Homo sapiens: one gene and its partners. The protein of the gene in region 1 purifies or fractionates together with the protein of each later gene. This does not show direct contact. Each region holds a gene or a part of one and is shown in the gene's direction. Other genes may lie near its edges.

Region 1 (5,246 bases):
AGCTGCAGGAATGGTGAGCCATTTTTGTGCAGGTGGAAGGGCCATGTGCCTGCCACAAATAACTTAGCTTCAGAAAATCTGTCATTTTGTTTGTAGTTTCTGTTTCTCAACCAAGGAGACCTCCTAGATTTCCTGGCATAATGGGTGGGGGAGGGTTAACCATGCGTTGATAAGCTGGACTGAGAGGCAACCACAGGCAAGGGAGCCCAAATAGCTCTTCATTCTTATGTGGGCCTCTTGCTTCCTTAAACGTTTTCCCCATAGTTACCAAGCACGTGACAGTGCTGGGACTGAGCCCTCCCTGGTCTCCTGTTTCCCAAGCTAGTGCGCTTCTACCAGCCATGCTGTTTCTGGGATTTCCTTGGAGTCCTGCAGAAAACAGTCGCATTTAAGTATGTGTCCTTTAGGCACATTCCTGGTACATGGAAGAAATAATTCCTGTCCCCGAGTCAGATTGCTCACTTAGTCCTGGTTACATCATAGGAATGGCAGAAAAATTCACAAAACAGTTCCAACTGATAAGACATCCAACACTGAGCCTCCCTCTGCCTGTGCAAACTTACCCCAGTGTAAAGATTACAACCATTGTGGGGTTGACACTGAATAGAAATATTAGAATATATTACATGTAGTAATACAAGTTATTGTTTTGTGAAGCAGTTGTTTTAGATATATATGTGGGGTGTGTGTATGTGTTTTGTTTATAGATGTATGTGCAATAATGGCTTGCAATGTACAGTGTATTTCTTAGAGTGAGGTAGGGTCATAAAGGTTTGAGACCTTTATGGTCTAGACCAAAGAAAGAGAGTTGTTTGTGGGTTGTGTCCAGAATGTGCTGACAGGTACTAGATGACACAGACTCAAGGAGCCAGGTCCCTGACTGAGGGCAGGGCACAGTGCAAGATGCACCAAACAGTGTATGGGGTGCTTTGCACACATTATCTCCCACTGTAATGGACACTCAGAGAGTGAAGGGGGTGCCATTAGAGACTGAGTGGCTGGGGGGGGTATGAGGGGAGGGGGAGGAAAGCTGACCCCTTGATTGTCTTTTCCTACCAGGCGAGTGGCAAGTATGGCTCAGTCAGCTCCTAGCGAAGCCCCGAGCTGCAGTCCCTTTGGGAAGAAGAAGAAGTACAAAGACAAATATCTGGCCAAGCACAGCTCGAGTAAGCTTTCTGAGCCTTCTTGCCCCAGGTTCCTGGCAGCATTCACGTGTTTCCCAGTCTCTGTAACCAGCAGAAAAGGGGAGGTGGTGCAGTGCGCAGCAGAAGGCGCATTCTACAGAAAGCATGTCATTTCTTCTGGTTTCTTTTTATTGAATCCATCTTCACAAGCTTGCTGCAGTCAGGCCAGTGGATGTAAAGGAGGACTAGTGGTGAGCCCACACCTGCTCATCACCCCACCCCTCACACAGAAGTAGATGTGGTGGGAGAGGGGAAGTGAGGCAAGAACACAGGCCAGAGGGAGAGGCCAGGGCCAGGTCATAGGGAGCTTCGTGCACCCTCCCTAGCGTTTTAAATTTTGCACTATAGACTGTGGAGCTGGTGAAGGGTTTTGAGCAGAGAATTCGCACGGTCAGCTTTCCATCTGCATTTCTCTTTTCTGAGACGTCACGTGCACACCACCAGCCAGGGAATGATCGTGGCAGTCTTGGGTTGTAGGCAGGTAAGGGGGTGGAGAGTCAGGATGACACCAGGTCTCTATCTTGAGCAGCTGGGTCAATAGCACCACCATCTTCTAAGATAAGGGACATTCAGGCAGAACCGAGATAGCATTGGCATTCTTCAGCTCTAAGTGCCAAGGGAACATCTGATACTGAAACTATGGAGAAGAGATGAGGACAGGAGACAAGAAAAGTTGGCTCAGAGAGATAGGGCAAGGAGGAAGAGAGGGTGCAAAAGTTAGATAAACTCCCTTGCTCAAAATTCCCTCACCACACTAAAAATACAGTCCAAAGTCCTTCCTCCACACCAACCTCCCTCGTCTCATCTCTAGTCACTTCCTCCCTGCTTGTTGAGATGTCGCGAGGCTGTTTCCCATTTCAGAGTGTGGACCACTGTTCTCCCTAGCTCTGGAAATGAACACTGCTTGGTTTTCTTTGTCTCTAGTTTTTGATCAGTTGGATGTTGTTTCCTACGAGGAAGTCGTTCGGCTCCCTGCATTCAAGAGGAAGACCCTGGTGCTGATCGGTATCTTCTCATTGCCCCATTTGCACATTTCTGTCTTTGTTTTCCTGCCTGCATCACGTGCCCACCCCCAAAAAAGGCAGTGAGGAAGAAAAGAACTGAGGTCTCTTGGGTTCTCCATATAGAGCAGGTGTAAGGAATTTTCTGAATCCTCACGTGCACCCCACCTGGGTCCACCTCACAAATGAAACTAAACCTTACAAGTTTCTCTACTATTTAGCAACGAATTATTTTTGGTTAGGTTTCATGCTGTCTGCTGGCAGTGATACGCTTTGTAAATCTCCCTTCCCCCAAGCAGTGACTCTGACCTGAAACAGAGTAAGTCCTTGCTTCAAACCCAGGTATGTAGGCTTTGCCTCTGGCGGACTGCTCACCTTCCTGTCTTTAGAGTTGACCCCAGCCCAGATGCAACCCCAACTCATGTTCACCTGTTGGCAGTTTTGAGTGCCGAGAGAGGAAAATCCGTATCTTATCCTCGCTCCTCTCCCCCCTTTCCAAAAGATGTTCTTCTCTCTCTACACAGGAGCCAGTGGGGTGGGTCGCAGCCACATTAAGAATGCCCTGCTCAGCCAGAATCCGGAGAAGTTTGTGTACCCTGTCCCATGTAAGTAGCTCTTAGGCACCTTGGAGGGGAGGTGACAGGCTGGTACCACTCGCCATCTGAAATACCATAGTGTTATTTTATTATTTTTTAAATTATTTTATTTTAAATGATTATTAAAACTAAACAAAATATGGAAAGATAAAAATTTGTGCCCACAATTCCTCCACCTAACAGAATAACTGTTTTCTTATTGTTATTCGTGCTGTTTGTCTACATAACAGAAGCTATAGTAAACATTTTGATACTGCCTTAAAAATTACTAAGTATTAAAGTTTATACATATAACTTTGTCATTTTACTTTTTAAACATTTTCTCATGTTCCTCTGCAATTTGCCTAATTCTCTTTGAGAACTATCCCACTCTTGATGTTCAGGCTGCCTCTCATTTTCATGGAATGTCTTCTAAATCAAAGCAGTGCCTAGGAAAGGCCCAAACGATCTCAACAGCAGTCCTAGATATGGAGAAGAGTAGCGCCAGTGATCAGGTGGAGAATTTGATAACTCTTCCATTCCCAGAAGTGATGCTGCATGGTATAGTTGTGTATGTTCCCAGAAAGAAATACGGTGATTCCTCACTTAATATTGTCAATAGGCTCTTCGAAGACTGTGACTTTAAGTGAAATGACATATAACAAGAACCAGTTTTTTTACTCATCAACAATACAATGAAATGAAGTTGAACTAAACCATGTTAGTCAACGACCAGCTGCATGTGATTTCACTTAAAGTCACATTTTCTAAGAACCTACTGATAATAATATTAAGTGAGGAATTACTGTACTGCTAAGCAAAATAGAAAACCAGATTCTAAACCTCATATTACTATTTTTTAATTCTTTCTTCATTTTGCTTTTTTACACATGGATCATTGAGAGTTGTCTCGTTGCTGGAGGGACATAAGAGTTATTCCAGTGTCACATTAGGAGCAGAAAGAGATGGCCCCAGGAGTGAGTGGGGAAGCAGAAATAACCAGTACAGGCTCCTCCTTCAAGAGAATCACATGTGGTTGTAGATTGAGGGGAAGGGGCCAGTTGAGAGACAAGTGTGATCCGGAAGGCAAAGGAGACAGTCAATGGAAGATGGAAAGAGGGGAGGTTGGGAGGATTGTGTTTCAAGCTACAATATCTGGAGCATATTTTACTGATTAGACAATTTATATGAGTAATAGAAAATAGTCCAACTTTTAACAACATGAGCTGAAACTAAACCAAAGTACTCTTCTTTCCAAGTCATGAAAAGGAAACCTTAAATATATTTCCAAGAAATCCTGACCATAGTCTGTAGATCTGTTTTTAAAATATTTTCCGCTATCTTCATTTCTAAGTTTCAATATTCCTAGATTTGGTAGTTTGAGAGATGTAACTTCATTTAGGGAAAATGATAATAGGAATTTTCTATGTTAGGCTTTGCCCCTTAAAAATTAAATGTGTCCTGGGCAGATGGAGGGATTTCCTGGTGTGCATCACTTTCTAGCATCAGCTCTTCAGGAGCCCACGGGAGGAACCCCTGTATTAAAGTCAATGCACCAAAGGCAGCTAGGGTTTCCATACAGACACCATGGTCCAAGCCCTCATGAAAGGGTGAGGACCTGGAGTTTGTCGGGGATTTGGGTTCTTGTACACAGATACAACACGGCCGCCAAGGAAGAGTGAGGAAGATGGGAAGGAGTACCACTTTATCTCAACGGAGGAGATGACGAGGAACATCTCTGCCAATGAGTTCTTGGAGTTTGGCAGCTACCAAGGCAACATGTTTGGCACCAAATTTGAAACAGTGCACCAGATCCATAAGCAGAACAAGATTGCCATCCTTGACATTGAGCCCCAGGTGGGTAGGCATGGAAGGGCAGGGACAGATGGGCTCAGCCACACAAGGGATGGCGAAGACAGTGCTCCTTGGGAATCTTCTGGGGGCTCAGGATTGCTTCAGCCTTTTAATGGGGTCAGCCTGGAACAAGAACAGTAGTACTGGGAATGATGGAAAGTTGTATTGGGGTAAAGCTCAAAGCTGCTTATTAGAAGGAATCCATTATGACAGCTATGTAGGTTTTTTTTTTTCACTTTCCTTTTCTTCCTTCCCCCCCCTCCCCGCCGCCCTTCTTTTTTTTTTCTAGACCCTGAAAATTGTTCGGACAGCAGAACTTTCGCCTTTCATTGTGTTCATTGCACCTACTGACCAGGGCACTCAGGTGAGGAGAGGTTGTGCGCGATGGGTAGTTCACTTTCTCCGGGCCTGCCCATACTGGGACCTCAGTCCAGGTCATTGGCCAGAGTGCTGGCTGGAGGTCACAGCTCCAGCTGGGCTTCTTCCTCCAGGGCCAAGAAGCCAAAGGGTATGCACATTCGTTCCAGCTCTTAAGCCACTAGCTAGGCCAGTGCCCATGCTACCTAACAGGGACAAAACAAACCAGACCCAGTCATCGTCCTGGAGGCACACAGTTCCAGGGGCAGAGATGG
Region 2 (5,246 bases), on another chromosome or scaffold:
TTTGTAATCAGACCATATTAATTTCAGTGGTTCTCTTAATTAAAGGGTGAATCAAGTGTTATGTATTATTTTGCTAAACCGAACACATTATTTTCGTTAGATTAGAAGCAGAATGTCAGTGTAGTTGCAGCAGAGCGGAGGCATTGAGTAAATGTGTTGAATAAATAAATGAATAAATACCTTATGAAGGATTTGGAACCCAGGGATTCTTATCATTTTCTGGACAGTAACCGGTTTTAGGGATGATAAAACTTTTCCCCAAATGTCTGTATACATACAAAACTTTGCACGTGAAAAGTTTAGGGAATTTCACCTGAATAACAATTGTATTAACCAGCAGTTAAGTTTTATCCACCACATTAAACATAAGCTCCCTCCTCCTGATAACCTTAAAAAAGGTATTTTCAGCTCTAATATTCTGAATGTAATGTTGGGGAAAAAAAACCTCCCAGGAGGTGTTATTAATACAAGGATTCATAACCAGAATTACATCACCAGATATTGGAATGAGCAGTATTAAATCAGTCAGATTACCAATGAGAAAAGTCAATACCAACTTGTAAGGACTGAAATATTTATGTTAACATGGTTCTTTTTATAGATTTCTCACTTAAAAATTTTCTCACTCACTTAATTACTCAAAGAACATCTTCAGTTACTAACTGGAGAAACTGAAAATGAAAGAAGAAATGGGTGAGAGTGGAATCCTCCCACCTCAGCCTCCCCAGCAGCTGGGACTACAGGCACAGGCCACCTTGTGTGGCTAATTTTTAAAAAAATTTTCTTTAGAGACACTGGGTTTCACCATGTTCCCCTGGCTGGTCTGGAACTCCTGGGCTCAAGTGATCCTCCCACCTTGGCCTCTCACAGTGCTGGGATTACAGAGATAAGGCACCACACCAAGCCCTGAGTCAGATTTTAATAAATTCAGTTTCCATTAGAGTGGAAAATTTTCAAATTAATGAATTATTTATTTATATATTTTTTGAGACAGAGTCTTGCTCTGTCGCCCAGTCTGGAGTGCAGTGGCATGATGTTGGCTCACTGCAGCCTCTGCCTCGTGGGTTCAAGCAATTCTCCTCCTTCAGCCTCCCCAGTAGCTGGGATTATAACCTTGCATCACCACCCCCAGCTAAATTTTTTTTTTTTTTGTATTTTAGTAGAGATGGGGTTTCACCATGTTGGCCAGGCTGGTCTCGAACTCCTCACCTCAAGTGATCCACCCACCTTGGCCTCCCAGAGTGCTGGGATTACAGGCGTGAGCCCCAGTGCCTTACCAGAATGGAAATATTTAAGTAAACAAAATATTTCTAAATGTAAACTAATGGCCTACTTATTTAGCAATTTCAGTTCAGTTCTTAGGAGTTTAATATTTCATCTATATTTTAATTAACCACAGATATTAGGCTTTCTCAAAGATAACATTTTGTCCTAATTTTAGTTTCTCAAATCGTTATTAAGGTTATGATGGCAACCCAGCTTGTGAAGTAATAGATGATAATAATATAGTCAGGAAATATCATTTGGTAACCAAGGCTTCAGCAAAGTATTAAGATTTTTGTGTTTGTGAGTGTTATAGGTAACACTGTTGGCCCCCAACATTGTCATTTTGTACACTTTGTTGATCAGTGGCCTGAATTCATTAAAATTCACACTACATGCCTCAAAAAGAATATTGGATCCCAGCCTAGGTTGTTGAGTATATTCCTGTCCTTTATTAAAATGTAGGTTGATAGAAAGGTGGTAGGGATATTTAAATCTATCATGCTAATTTACTTTCTTTGTATCACAGCAAGGATAGGGAATTAGGAAAAGATTACTCACTCAATAGAGAAAAGGTAGATAGAAAATCCAGTATTATCTTGACAAAGCAGTGAATGTTTTAGTATGATTGAGGATAGGTAATCTAGTGCTAAAGTTGGTCACAGAATTTCCTGCACAAAATGAAAGATCTGTGTATGGGAATGCTAGAGAATTTGACTTCTCAGAAATATATAGACCAACAGTGGTTGCCTTTTTTCATTTTCACTTCTCTTCATTCTTAGATCTACGGAATCCAGAGGCAGCATTGTCTCCAACCTTCCGTAGTGACAGCCCAGTGCCTACTGCACCCACCTCTGGTGGCCCTAAGCCCAGCACAGCTTCAGCAGTTCCTGAATTAGCTACAGATCCTGAGTTAGAGAAGAAGTTGCTACACCACCTCTCTGATCTGGCCTTAACATTGCCCACTGATGCTGTGTCCATCTGTCTTGCCATCTCCACGGTAATGACCTGACAGAGTTAGGATTTACCACTTATTTTCAGTTCACGGTCAGTGTCTTATTGCCCATACCTCCCCTCGTTCTCTAGCCAGATGCTCCTGCCACTCAAGATGGGGTAGAAAGCCTCCTGCAGAAGTTTGCAGCTCAGGAGTTGATTGAGGTAAAGCGAGGTCTCCTACAAGATGATGCACATCCTACTCTTGTAACCTATGCTGACCATTCCAAGCTCTCTGCCATGATGGGTGCTGTGGCAGAAAAGAAGGGCCCTGGGGAGGTAGCAGGGACTGTCACAGGGCAGAAGCGGCGTGCAGAACAGGACTCGACTACAGTAGCTGCCTTTGCCAGTTCGTTAGTCTCTGGTCTGAACTCTTCAGCATCGGAACCAGCAAAGGAGCCAGCCAAGAAATCAAGGAAACATGCTGCCTCAGATGTTGATCTGGAGATAGAGAGCCTTCTGAACCAACAGTCCACTAAGGAACAACAGAGCAAGAAGGTAGGGGTCATGTGAAAATACTCTCACAATATGCTCTTAATTATAGCTTTGTTTGACAGGGATTTACCCCTAGGGCAAGGAACTGTTTACAGCAGTGGTTCTCAACTGGGGATGATTCCCTACTGCCCAACTCCCAGGGGATCTGGTAATGTCCGGAGACATTTTTATTGTCACACATGGGGGAGTGCTATTGGCATCTAGTGGGGGTAGAGGCCAGGGATGTTGTCAAACATCCTACAGTGCATAGTGGGACAAACCCCCACAACAAACAGTTGTCTGTCCCAAAGTGTCAACAATGCCAATGTCGACAAATTCTTATTTAGATAATCTGTCACTGAATCTGAAAGAATTGGATCAAGAGAAGAGGAATCCAAATATATAGAAATATAGGGAGATGAATGGAGAGGAATACTAGACCAATTATGGAAATTGACTAAATAATGTGAATTGGTTCTGAGTATAAGCATTGGCCTGACATGAGTTCTTATCTGTTTGGTACTTCTAGTGCGTGAGTTTGAACAAGTTAATTAACTTCTCTTGAGCCTTAGTCTTCTCATCTGTAACATGAAGATAATACCAGCGTATCCTGCCTTATAGAATTGAATAGACTCTGAGCTAAAAAGTAAAGTGTTTAGCACTATACTTTTTAGTTCAGCACCCAGTAAATATGTTTTTTGTAGAAGGAATGCCTTCCTGGGGAGGGGATGTTAACATAATGCTTAGCGGTAGGAACCAGGCCTCTTCCATTTTAATTTCATCCCAAATGCATATTTGTGAGGAAGGACTGAACCCCTAACAAATCTCTTATCTGAAGGCTCCAATTTTCCAATATTAAGTTAGCTAATTTAGGTCTAGGCACAATGGCTCATTCCTGTAATCTCAACACTTTGGGAGGCCAAGGCGCGAGGATCACCTGAGGCGAGGAGTTCAAGACCGGCCTGGGCAACATAGACCCTATCCCTATAGAAAGTAAAGTAATTAAAACATTAGCTGGCATGGTGTCACGCACCTATATTCCCAGCTACAATTGAAGGCTGAGCTGGGAGGATCACTTGAGCCTGGGAGTTCAGTGGGAGAAACAGTGAGTTATGATTACACAACTACACTCTGGCCTGGGTGACAGCAAGATCCCATCTCTTAAAAAAAAAAAAAAAAAAAAAGTTGATTTATCTCTTAGAAGACATTAATGTCAAAAAGAATTTGCGGAGTTGGTCTAAGAGCCAATTTGATCTATAAGACATTTTAAGTCCAAGGCTACTTCTGTCACAGGTCAGTCAGGAGATCCTAGAGCTATTAAATACTACAACAGCCAAGGAACAATCCATTGTTGAAAAATTTCGCTCTCGAGGTCGGGCCCAAGTGCAAGAATTCTGTGACTATGGAACCAAGGAGGAGTGCATGAAAGCCAGTGATGCTGATCGACCCTGTCGCAAGCTGCACTTCAGGTCTCTTGGAAGGGAATGAGGTGGGATGGGTTTGTCAGAAGCAGCCATTCCTTTTCAGCATATTCCTTCCAGTCATTGGGGTTCTGTCTGTAATCTTATTTAGTTTATGGTTTGTGTAAGTCCTCCAGACCCTGAAGGTGTACTTTCAGAAGTGCATTGTGTGGGAAGAATACAGGCTGTACTCCCAAATAACTGAGATTTTTTTTTTAAAAGCTCCCTCCCTCTTAGAATAGCAAAGTATGTCTGTCTCTGAGCCACAGTGAAAGTTAAAGTACTCTGAAAGGAGGATAATCTTAGGAGAAAAGGAACCTAAACTCTTAGGTCAGTGTTTTATTCTGTTCTACCCAAGTCTCCTGCACTGCTTGCCTTCCAGTGGTAAAACAGGAAACCAAGTCTTTACTCAGAGAGGAATTACAATTGTTCTGTAGTATGAATTATGGATTTCCATGCTACCTGCCTCCCTTAAAACTCTTGAAGGAAGCTCTAATGATAGAATTAGGGGAGGGTAATAAAATAGACATTTTGAAATCATTTGGAATTTGAACTGTTGGATCTACATCTGGAGCACCATCTTGATTCTCCCTTTTTATTTTCCCAGACGAATTATCAATAAACACACTGATGAGTCTTTAGGTGACTGCTCTTTCCTTAATACATGTTTCCACATGGATACCTGCAAGTATGTTCACTATGAAATTGATGCTTGCATGGATTCTGAGGCCCCTGGCAGCAAAGACCACACGCCAAGCCAGGAGCTTGCTCTTACACAGAGTGTCGGAGGTGATTCCAGTGCAGACCGACTCTTCCCACCTCAGGTACCTGTCTGCTCAGAAAACTCGTCTCAACTTACGGACTTATGTTTGATAGGGCAGCCATACACGTTAAGAAAGCAGAGCATAATTCAGCAATCTTGTCTTGCTTATTGGGAATGGAGGGGGATAGATAAGCTTTTAAGGGAATAGGAAAAATCAAATGGAAAAGAGGGACTCGGGCCATGAATCTCAGAGTTAAAGTAGGGAAGATGACCAAATACCACTTTATGCAGTG
Region 3 (5,246 bases), on another chromosome or scaffold:
TGTGTTTTTCTTTGAAGAGGAATGACAACTATTAGCAAGACTCAGGCTCATTAATTTGGGGTCTTAAGTTCCACACTAAGTTGACTCCTTTGTACTTTTTGAAATACGATTATTCAAGAAACAGCTTTACCATTGTGTTACATTCTGCTTAGCTTGGATTTCTTTGTACAGAGATTGCCTGAGTGTCCAGACAGTAATTTTTGTATTACTGAATTTATTAGTGTTGAATTTGCAAAGTTGTGTTTTCCAAAGTTTCATTCTGCAGCACTTATAATCGATTGTTGAAGATAGTGAATAGATCAGTACCTAGAAGTAAAAATGGATACAAGTACTACAAAGTCCTGTCTTGCCTATTTAATAGGTATTCTATTAATGTTTGGGGCTCTGAATTATATGCTATAATTTCTATGCTAGCATTCATTGTTTCTTAAATTTTAATGAGTTTAAAATTGCAGGCTTCTAATAGAATATGAATATCTTCAATTTATTTGGTGATCTTGTCCTTTTTTTAAATTTTTATATATGACCATGGTGAGACATTTGTAAACTTAAAAAAAGCTCTATTAATTAAACCATTTTTGTATTATTATTTTAAGTATTTCAGTTATTATTCAGATTCACATAGTTGATTACCATTTTTAATCAGTGAATTTTTCCAGGATGTTTTCTACATCTTTGTCTGCTTTCCTATAACTCAGTACTGTAACTCAGTACTCTGAAATAGTTTCCTTTGTTAATAGAGTCACTTTTATAGTACTGTGCTTGAGGTCATATACAGAGTATTGTGTCCAAATTTATCATTGCACAAAGTGTTTTTGGAAATTCTTGGTTACTCCTTAGTAAATTACCTGTAATTGGGTTACATGCTGGTAGGGTTTAAAATCTGATTGCTAAGTGAATTCTCTATAAAGTGAGTTTTGATACATAGAAACTTTTCATATAATTCTTAAACTCATGTGTCATGTATTTTCATTTATAGTTTTCATATTCATTAACATATGTTGTTCCTTACCATTTACAGCTCAGAATTCTGCAAATGCAGATTTTGCAAACTTTGATGCATTTGGACAGTCTAGTGGTTCGAGTAATTTTGGAGGTTTCCCCACAGCAAGTCACTCTCCTTTTCAGCCCCAAACTACAGGTAGAGCTTCTCCAGCATTGTGCTTAAATGTTTACTTTACAAAACAAAACTCTCTAAATGTAGTTTTGAAAAATTAGTCTAAACTTAAATTCTGTAATTATCTGACTTTAAAATGGTTCTATCTTCAAAAGCTCTGGGGAAACCTGAACTCTTTATTTTTTTCTATGTTCATTTGTTTTTCTGCATTATTTGGTATATTGTCTGTTTGACAACATCCATTCTCCTCCTTTTCCTGCGCATGAATCTTCCTTATATCTACCATGCACACAGGACAGAGGCATGACACTACTATAAGTATTTCTCTCTCTCTGTCTCTTTTTTTTTTTTTTTGGCAATCCTCCTGCCTCAGGATGGAATACAGGCACATGCCACCACTCCCAGCTAAATTTTTTTTTTTTTTTTGGTAGCAGCTGGGTCTCACTATGTTGCCCAGGCTGGTCTTGAACTCCTGGCCTCAAGTTATCCTCCTGCCTTGACCTCCCACAGTGCTGGGATTACAGGTGTGAGCCACTGTGCCCAGCCAGTACTATAAGTTTTTTAAGGTTCATAGAATCCATTGATTTAGGCTGACATTATACCTCTTAATAAAGGAAGCTGGTTGCTTCTGTAGAGCTAAAAATGTAAGTAATTTTCGGGGCAACAAGCCTGAGAAAAATTTTTATATGTTTATTAGACAAGAGTAGATTAATGATCACTTCAGTCAAACTTGGAAATAGTTTTCTGTGCAGGAATTGGTGTTTAAACATTGAATACTCTTTCCATAAATTGTGCTGTTTTCGTAAACTCATGGAACCCTTATTTAGATTTTTGGCTGATTACTTTTCTTTCAACTTTTAACTCTGTGTATTGTCTTAAAGCCTTTTCTTTCAATTTTCTTTTTTGTTTTTTCTTTAACTTTCATCATTTACATAATTTCTGGCTGTCCAGCATTTAGAATGCTTTCATCTAGCTGCAGTTTTGGTGAATTTACTTCAGCTTTTCCTCTTCAGGCTACCCACAGTAAGTTCTGTTGTCAAGTAGGCATCTTATACTAATTTGTATATTTTTGCTATACTTCAAGGGTTTTTCCAGTTATAGATTGTTAATAATTCTTTAGTGATAATCCTTCATAAAAATCTCTTCCAACTCTATTTATTAAACTCAGAGTTAGAGAACACAATAGTAGACAATCAAAGAGTTACTTGGTTTAATAATAATTTGAAATAATATTCTTTATATAAATTTTGAAAGTTTAGTATGTACTTTGTTTGCCAGCTCCTTGTAACAGGTCACAATATTTTACATACAAACATATATTACTTACCTTTAATTGAAACCACCATGATTTAACTCTTGAAAGAAATTTGATCAGTGTATATTTTTTTTAGAATGTATAAAAACCTGCTTGATAGAAAGTGTTCGTGTTTTTTTAATAGAAGTTCATGCATTCTGTTTTAAAATTATCTGTAGTTGTCTTTTCTATCACTTTAATATATAACTGTGTATATATACTGTTTTGATTTCTGAAACTAAAGTTTAGAAATAAAGAACTAATATCCCAAAAATGTAGGATCAAAAGCATAGAATGAAATATACTGGTTTTAGTCTTTTGATAGTACTTTAAGGAGGTCTCTATAATAGAGAACAGATTTTAAAGATGTAACAGGATATATATAATAGTGGCCATTAGGTGAATTGTGGTTTATAAAGTCAAAAATTGCTATAATGTATTATGTACTGTAATTTTAATGCCTTGAACTATATGGTACGGCATGATTTTACAGTGGACATCTTGATATTGTATACACATTAAACTATTATGTGGAATTAAATAGTAGCTCTTCAAGTGAAGTAAGTATAAATGTCAACGACCATCTTTTAAGGAATTTTGGATCACCGTAACACATTTTACACATTGTTAATCGCTACCCCTGGGATTGTTTAAACTGTTTCGTCATGGAGCCACAAAAGTTTGAAATCCTCCTAGTAAGATACTTTGCATCTTGTTTGCAGTCTGTTCAGGGAGAACTAGTGAAAGGCTGTAGTATATTTGGACTAGAAAGTAACTGAATCTCAAACCAGGTAGTGTGGAGATACCCCTCCATGAATTACATTCTTCATTCCAGGGTAGGTAATACACAGAAACATGTTACTTTACCTGTTGCCAAGGCCTTTGAAAAATCTACTTTTACAAAATTGGAAAACGTCACTTGTAGTCAAAAGCCATTGCCAGTCATTGATTTTAATGTTGTAAGATTGCTTATAGGACATTTAATTTAGGAAGAAATGATCATACAGTCTATGAGAGGGTACTAGGAAAAGCTTAGAAATTTCAAGTGCTCTGTTTATTCTGTTACAGGTGGAAGTGCTGCATCAGTAAATGCTAATTTTGCTCATTTTGATAACTTCCCCAAATCCTCCAGTGCTGATTTTGGAACCTTCAATACTTCCCAGAGTCATCAAACAGCATCAGCTGTTAGTAAAGTTTCAACGAACAAAGCTGGTTTACAGACTGCAGACAAATATGCAGCACTTGCTAATTTAGACAATATCTTCAGTGCCGGGCAAGGTATCAAGCTTTAAGCAAAACAAATACAAATTTGTGTTAAACAGTGCTCTTAATTTGGTTGTATTTATTAAAATCTGAACATGCTACACTTTTCTCAGTTGTTGTATAGAAATTTTGTCTGCACTGTCATTTTGAGTAAAATGTTCACTTGACACATTTTAGACCTGAAATATCAACTACAAAACTGAAGACATAGGGACTGATTTGTAAACTTTCAGTCTTACTAGTTGAGAAAAATTTTATTTTGTCCTAGAAGGCGTGCTTTACTTTTCTTTGGCTATAAAGAGCCAAGAAACCCCATTGGCAGAGCTGAATGGAGGATTATTTGGTGGTTTCTGTAATATATTTACTTCGAACAATTTTCCGTTAACATCTTGGTGGGTTTTTTATATTTAAAAAAAAAAATTCATGAATTTTACAGTATAGTCTTGTATCCAGTTTTATCTTAAGGCTAGTAGCCTCTACAAATGCATGTGGCACTGGTGAATAGCAGGTGTGTGTTGCTAAATGGAATTCTCCATTCTGATCTCTGGGCCTGTTTTCCTCCTCTCCAAAATGAGGATAATTCTAAGCATTAAACTCATGGAGTTGTGTTCTAAGTATTATTGCATGTTAAGGCATATAGAACAGTGCCTAGCACATAGTAAGTCCTCAATAAATGTTTCCCGTTATTACCATCTCTAATTTTTTTGTGGAGAATGCTGGGGAAATGATGCTATTGATAGACTGTTCACATTAGGTCTAGCATTATATGAATTTATATGTTCATGTGAACAAGATCCACCCGTCTTGGAGATGTTAACGTAAGAGCACTTGAGAGTTTCTTTCTTATGCATAATCCAGACAAATTTTTTTGGTACAGAGTGTTAATTTTTGTTAAGAGACATATTCTGTCTTTATCACAGTGGTATGTATAACAACTAATCCTGTCCAGTATGGTCCAGGTTATTTATTAGATTAATGATTTGGAATCCTGCTTAACTCTAAATCCATTTTAAGTTTACCTGTGTTTCATGGCAAATGTGGTTGATAAGTTGAAAGTGTAACTTTAAATTTTTGGTGTAACTTGATTTTGTTCGTTCCCAGGTGGTGATCAGGGAAGTGGCTTTGGGACCACAGGTAAAGCTCCTGTTGGTTCTGTGGTTTCAGTTCCCAGTCAGTCAAGTGCATCTTCAGACAAGTATGCAGCTCTGGCAGAACTAGACAGCGTTTTCAGTTCTGCAGCCACCTCCAGTAATGCGTATACTTCCACAAGTAATGCTAGCAGGTACCTTGTCTTAGCTAGCCCTCCTGCTTTGTGTTTTATCTTTTTTTTCCAACTTTGAATAATCAATTAAAAAATGACTGTTTCAAGGTATAATTTTAAAATTCTTGGATATTTTTGTAAATTTGAGGAATTTGAATTTAAATGCTAATTAAAATATAATCCTTGAATAATTGCCATAATTTTATCTTTTCATTGAATCAGACGTTTTGTTATGTTCTGTCCTTGAACACTAAACCGTATTTGAGAGCATGTACACATCTCAAAATGGACAGTTCCTTACAGATTGTACT
Region 4 (5,246 bases), on another chromosome or scaffold:
GCTTTGCTAGTCGTTGTAATATGTTTTATTTATTTTATTTATTTATTTTTGAGACGGAGTCTCGCACTTTCGCCCAGGCTGGAGTGTAGTGGTCGATCTCAGCTCGCTGCAAGTTCCGCCTCCAGGGTTCACGCCATTCTTCTGCCTCAGCCTCCCGAGTAGCTGGGACTACAGGCGCCTGCCACCACGCCTGGCTAATTTTTGTATTTTTAGTAGAGACGGGGTTTCACTGTGTTAGCCAGGATGGTCTCGATCTTCTAACCTTGTGATCCACTCGCCTCGGCCTCCCAAAGTGCTGGGATTACAGGCGTGAGCCACCGCGCCCGGCCATTGTGATATGTTTTAAAAAACTCTCCACTTTTCATTATGAAATGTTCTCCTAGCTGAAAAACGTAGAGATGCAGAGCATCCTCCATAGTTGTAAAATTTTTTGTCTATAGGAGTCTGCCTTCTAGCTTCTACTGATTGGTCATAGATCTGTACTCCAAAACAAAAAAGGTCATCTTTCAGACCAAAGATCTATCTGTGTGTTGATCTGCATATAGAATTTCTGGAGCCTTTCTTTCCTGCTTGTTCTCCTGGGTCAGCATGTCGTTGTGCTTCGTAAAATAAGAGTATAGAGCCCAGTAAGGCCATTACATCGTTTATTATGGAGTCTATATTTCAGTTACCTATGACTTATAGGTAGCAAATCATACTGTTAACCTTCTTTGCCTAAAATTCTGATGTCTTTATCCTTTGAGTTACTATTGAGCCAATCCTCCCTTACCCAGTTTTTATATAACTGAAGTTTTGAATCTAAGTGTAGGAAGTTATATGTATACCTTATTCCTACTAAATTGAGTCTTTGTTTTGGCTTATTATTAGTCCTGAAGAAGTGTTTTTTTTTTTTTCTGTTTCCGTGTTGCATTTTTTAAGCTTAGTTATGTCAATAATCCATCAATTCTCCTTCCTCCTATTGTCTGTAAAATTGATGAACATAGCTTTTATATCTTTAGATAAGTTAAATCTTCAGCAGAACTCTATGGTATGCCATTAGATATTTCTTCCCATTTTGACACAGATCCTTTAATCAATTCATTGTTCACATTAGCTAATGCATCTACCTAATTCTATGGTGGTTAGACCTGTATGCATGTATATGGTAGATTGTAATAACGGATCTGGGATAATAAGTGGTAAGGAGAATCTGCTTTTAGATCATTGGATTTTCTACTTGAAGGTTCATTCTTCCAATATGCTGGCTGCCACAGTAGTCTTAAGAAAAAAACCTTTTTCCCCCCTCAGAATATTTAGAAATAACTAGAGATTTGTGACAGTTAGTAGGTATACAAATAGATGAGGTTTTTTATTAAAGTGTGATGTTTATTCTTCAGCATCTGTTAGGCAGTTCCTCTTGTATATTGAATATCGTTAGAGGAAAATGGATCATCTTTGTGGACCTAGAGCCTTGGTAGAATTAAGGGCAGTAATTTGGGATGGAACTTCATTTTCTTTTTTTCTTTTCCTTGTGGGAACTACCATTTTATTCACTGGTGTTCATCCTGTTAACTAAGGAAAAGTTTTATTTTTTTCCCCTCAGCTTGCCGAACTAAAGCAAGAATGTCTTGCTCGTGGTTTGGAGACCAAGGGAATAAAGCAAGATCTTATCCACAGACTCCAGGCATATCTTGAAGAACATGGTGAGTACTTTGTGGAGGCGGAGTGATGTGAGTGAGGGGATTTTCAGGCTTTGACACTGAAAAGATTTCTTTTTTTTTTTTCAGGTCATTAGCAATGTAAGCTCTTAATTAACGGCATCAAGAAAACTCTCTCTTTTTTTTTTTTGAGATGGAGTCTTGCTCTGTTGCCCAGGCTGGAGTGCAGTGACGCAGTTTCAGCTCATTGCAACCTCTGTCTCCCGGCTTCAACCAATTCTCCTGTCTCAGCCTCCCAAGCAGCTGGGACTACAGGCGAGCACCACCATGCCTGGCTGATTTTTGTATTTTTAGTAGAGACGGGGTTTCACCATATTGGTTGGGCTGGTCTAGAATTCCTGACCTCAGGTGAGCCACCCGCCTCAGCCTCCCAAAGTGCTGGGATTACAGTTGTGAGCCACCGCGCCCAGCCATCTTGTACAACCTACATCTTAGGTTGTACAAGTCCTCTATCTAATTTTTATTTACGTATTCCCTTTTATTTCTATTCCTCATTTCACTTTCTCCCCAACCCATTTAGGCACCCGTTCTAATGTGTTTGAATGTATTTTTTTGGTGTTTTTCCTGGTAAACTATGTAGTGTTGTTTTGTAGAATGTTTTCATTTATATAATTGGTAATTACATAACTGGCCATAGCCTTGCTTTATTTCTCATTTTTTTCACTAAGTATTGTGTTTTTTTTTTTTTAAAGATGCGTCCATGTGGAATGTGACTGTGTAGTTATCTAGTCTGTTGATTCTAATTCCTGCATAGCATTCAATGATGGATAACCACACATTTTACTTAATTCACTCGGTGACAGAAAATTTTATTGCCACCAAGCCTCTGCTACTATAAGTGATACTACTTATAGTATACTATATGTATATAATAGTATATAGTATATATTATACTATGGGTTGAGTGTTATATATTTGAAATGCTTGGGACTAGAAGTGTTTCAGATTTTAGTTTTTTCGGATTTTGGAATATTTGTGTATATATATAATGAGATATCTTGGGGGTGAGATCCAAGCCTAAACACAAAATTTATTTGTTTCTTATCCACATATCTGAAAGTAGTTTTATACAGTATTTAAAATAATTTTGTACATGAAACAAAGTTTTGACTGTGACCCATTGCATGAGGTTAGGTGTGGGGTTTTCCACTTGTATCATATCAGCCTTCAGAAAGTTTTAGATTTAGGAGCATTTTAGGTTTTGAATTTTCAGATTGGTGATGCTTAACCTGTAGGATATAGTATACTATATCCTATATACTAATAGTATATAGTATATTATTATGAACTACTTATTTTATGCTCTTATGTTCCTGTGAAAGTCTTTTTGGGGTATATGCCCAAGAATGGTATTGCTAATTAATATTCATAAATATATACTTAATGTGACTAAGGACTCCCAAATTATTTTCCAGAATTGCTCTGTAGATCTGCAGTCTCATTACTAGTACATAAGGGTTCTTGTATCTTCACAAACCTAAACTTGGCACTGTCCTATCAAGTGGCCTAAGTTTTGCTAATTTGTTGGCTGTTTTATGTTCTCCATGAAAAAAGTTTAAACATTTCACAATTCTTTGGGTTTCTTCTTTGCCCATTTTTCTGTTGAGGTTCCCATAATTTGCCTGTTGGCTTGCAGGCATTTCTTTTATATTCTAATAACTATTGTTTTGTTGATTTTAGGCACAAATATCTTCTTTGGCTGTGCGGGGTGGTTCATGCCTGTAACTCAGCACTTTGGGAGGCTAAGGTGGTATGATCTCTTGAGGCCCGGAGTTTGAGACCAGTCTGGGCAGCATAGTGAGATCCCATCTCTAAGAAAAATAATAAAATTAGCTGGGTGTGGTGATGTGCACCTGTAGTCCTACCTACTTGGGAGGCTAAGGCAGGAGGATCCCTTGAGCCCAGGAGGGGGAGGCTGCAGGGAGCTGTGATTGTGCCATTGCACTTTATCTGGGCGACAGAGTAAGACTCTGTCTCAACAAAAACAAATGTCTTGTCATTTGTCTTTTAAGTTTCTTTGTGCTATCCTTAAGTAGAAGTACTTAGTTTTGAAAAATCTTCAATTTTTCACCTCTTACTTTTGGTTCTGGGTTGTTTTTCTTTTAAACAAATCTTTCCCCACCACTAAATCTCAAAGATACTTTTCCACATACTTTTTTTGTTTGTTATTCAAGACTGGGTCTTGCTCTGTCACCCAGGCTGGAGTGCAGTGACATGATCTCAGCTCACTGCAGCCTCTGCCTTCTGGGTTCAAGTAATGTTCCCACTTCAGCCTCCCCAGTAGCTAAGACTATAGGCGCACACCCCCACACCCAGCTAATTTTTTTATGTTTTTTGTAAAGACGGGGTTTCGCTGTGTTCCCCAAGCTGGTCGCTTGAACTCCTAGGTTCAAACGATCCACCTGCCTCTGCCTCCCAGATTGCTGGGATTACAGAGAGCCACGGTGCCTGGCCCAACATTACTTTTAAAATTAATTCTCTAGTTTGACTTCACATTTAGTTCTTCAGTCCAACTGGAGTTCACATTTGTAATTAATGTTAGGTAGAAATCTGGTTTTATCTTCTCCAGATGTAGCAGATTTTATGTGCATCAGTTTCTGCCTTCACTGTTGGATTTTTTGGGGGAAAGCAAAGTGATTATAATTTTAACCTTGGTAAGTGATCAAGATGGTTTTGTAGCAGGGCTTGACCTGAATATTTTAATATTCTTTAGCTGAAGAGGAGGCAAATGAAGAAGATGTACTGGGAGATGAAACAGAGGTGAGTTGGATAGAGTAAGGTTAGTCTCTGGTAATGTGCCACTGCTTTGGCCACATTGCTTTAACATCAGTCATTGGAGGACTTAGATGTAAATTTATTAGGGGAGCATAAGATGGGTATGAAGGTTCTGAGAGACTGGTTTATTTTGGAGTTCTGATGTTCTTCTTTTGATAGATATTTATTCTTTAGATTTATGTTAACCACCTTGTTTCATTTGGTTTTAGGAAGAAGAAACAAAGCCCATTGAGCTCCCTGTCAAAGAGGAAGAACCCCCTGAAAAAACTGTTGATGTGTAATTATCCCTTTTTTATAATCTGAGTACAGAGCAGGCAGCTCTTTTCTTAATGTATTTAATGTTTAACTTTGTTTACCTCTTACATGTTCCCATTGGCCTTTTCCTTTCTGATTAGGTCATTTTTTTGTTTTTTAGAAGGGACTACTTCAAAGTACTTGGTCCCAGTGAAGTAAAGCAAATTGTCTCTGAGTTATGTAATAGGTAATGAGGACCAGGTGACTTCAAGACCAGACATAGTTTAATTCTCCTAGCCTTTGTTGTTCTTTTGTAGGGTCACCATAATAGATTATTCTGTTACTCTATAGAGAATCTGTACAATTCTGTATGCAGTGTAAAACTGTGTAAACTCTGTTAACTTTTTTTTTTTTGAGACAGGATCTCACTCTGTTGCCCAGACTGGAGTGCAGTGGCGTGATCTTGGCTCACCGTAACTTCTGCTTCCCAGGCTCAAGCAATTCTCCTGCCTCAGCCTCCCGAGTAGCTGGGATTATAGG

What was found.
Region 2: the proteins of MPP1 (region 1) and METTL3 purify together in Homo sapiens (affinity purification with mass spectrometry; one large-scale study listed by BioGRID and IntAct). This does not show direct contact.
Region 3: the proteins of MPP1 (region 1) and AGFG1 purify together in Homo sapiens (affinity purification with mass spectrometry; one large-scale study listed by BioGRID and IntAct). This does not show direct contact.
Region 4: the proteins of MPP1 (region 1) and SARNP purify together in Homo sapiens (affinity purification with mass spectrometry; one large-scale study listed by BioGRID and IntAct). This does not show direct contact.

Annotation. Positions count from the first base shown.
Region 1 is NC_000023.11:154,780,971-154,786,216, reverse strand, and holds part of MPP1 (55 kDa erythrocyte membrane protein), read left to right. Parts: coding exon 1-13; intron 14-1,059; coding exon 1,060-1,166; intron 1,167-2,108; coding exon 2,109-2,189; intron 2,190-2,709; coding exon 2,710-2,790; intron 2,791-4,414; coding exon 4,415-4,617; intron 4,618-4,903; coding exon 4,904-4,978; intron 4,979-5,246. UniProt on the Homo sapiens protein: Essential regulator of neutrophil polarity. Regulates neutrophil polarization by regulating AKT1 phosphorylation through a mechanism that is independent of PIK3CG activity.
Region 2 is NC_000014.9:21,500,681-21,505,926, reverse strand, and holds part of METTL3 (N(6)-adenosine-methyltransferase catalytic subunit METTL3), read left to right. Parts: intron 1-2,045; coding exon 2,046-2,263; intron 2,264-2,349; coding exon 2,350-2,754; intron 2,755-4,023; coding exon 4,024-4,199; coding exon of another isoform or gene 4,200-4,218; exon of another isoform or gene 4,219-4,219; intron 4,220-4,797; coding exon 4,798-5,014; intron 5,015-5,244; coding exon 5,245-5,246. UniProt on the Homo sapiens protein: The METTL3-METTL14 heterodimer forms a N6-methyltransferase complex that methylates adenosine residues at the N(6) position of some RNAs and regulates various processes such as the circadian clock, differentiation of embryonic and hematopoietic stem cells, cortical neurogenesis, response to DNA damage, differentiation of T-cells and primary miRNA processing.
Region 3 is NC_000002.12:227,530,070-227,535,315, forward strand, and holds part of AGFG1 (arf-GAP domain and FG repeat-containing protein 1), read left to right. Parts: intron 1-1,021; coding exon 1,022-1,141; intron 1,142-2,068; coding exon of another isoform or gene 2,069-2,140; intron 2,141-3,479; coding exon 3,480-3,689; intron 3,690-4,775; coding exon 4,776-4,956; intron 4,957-5,246. UniProt on the Homo sapiens protein: Required for vesicle docking or fusion during acrosome biogenesis. May play a role in RNA trafficking or localization.
Region 4 is NC_000012.12:55,800,065-55,805,310, reverse strand, and holds part of SARNP (SAP domain-containing ribonucleoprotein), read left to right. Parts: intron 1-1,582; coding exon 1,583-1,682; intron 1,683-4,410; coding exon 4,411-4,457; intron 4,458-4,681; coding exon 4,682-4,749; intron 4,750-5,246. UniProt on the Homo sapiens protein: Binds both single-stranded and double-stranded DNA with higher affinity for the single-stranded form. Specifically binds to scaffold/matrix attachment region DNA. Also binds single-stranded RNA. Enhances RNA unwinding activity of DDX39A.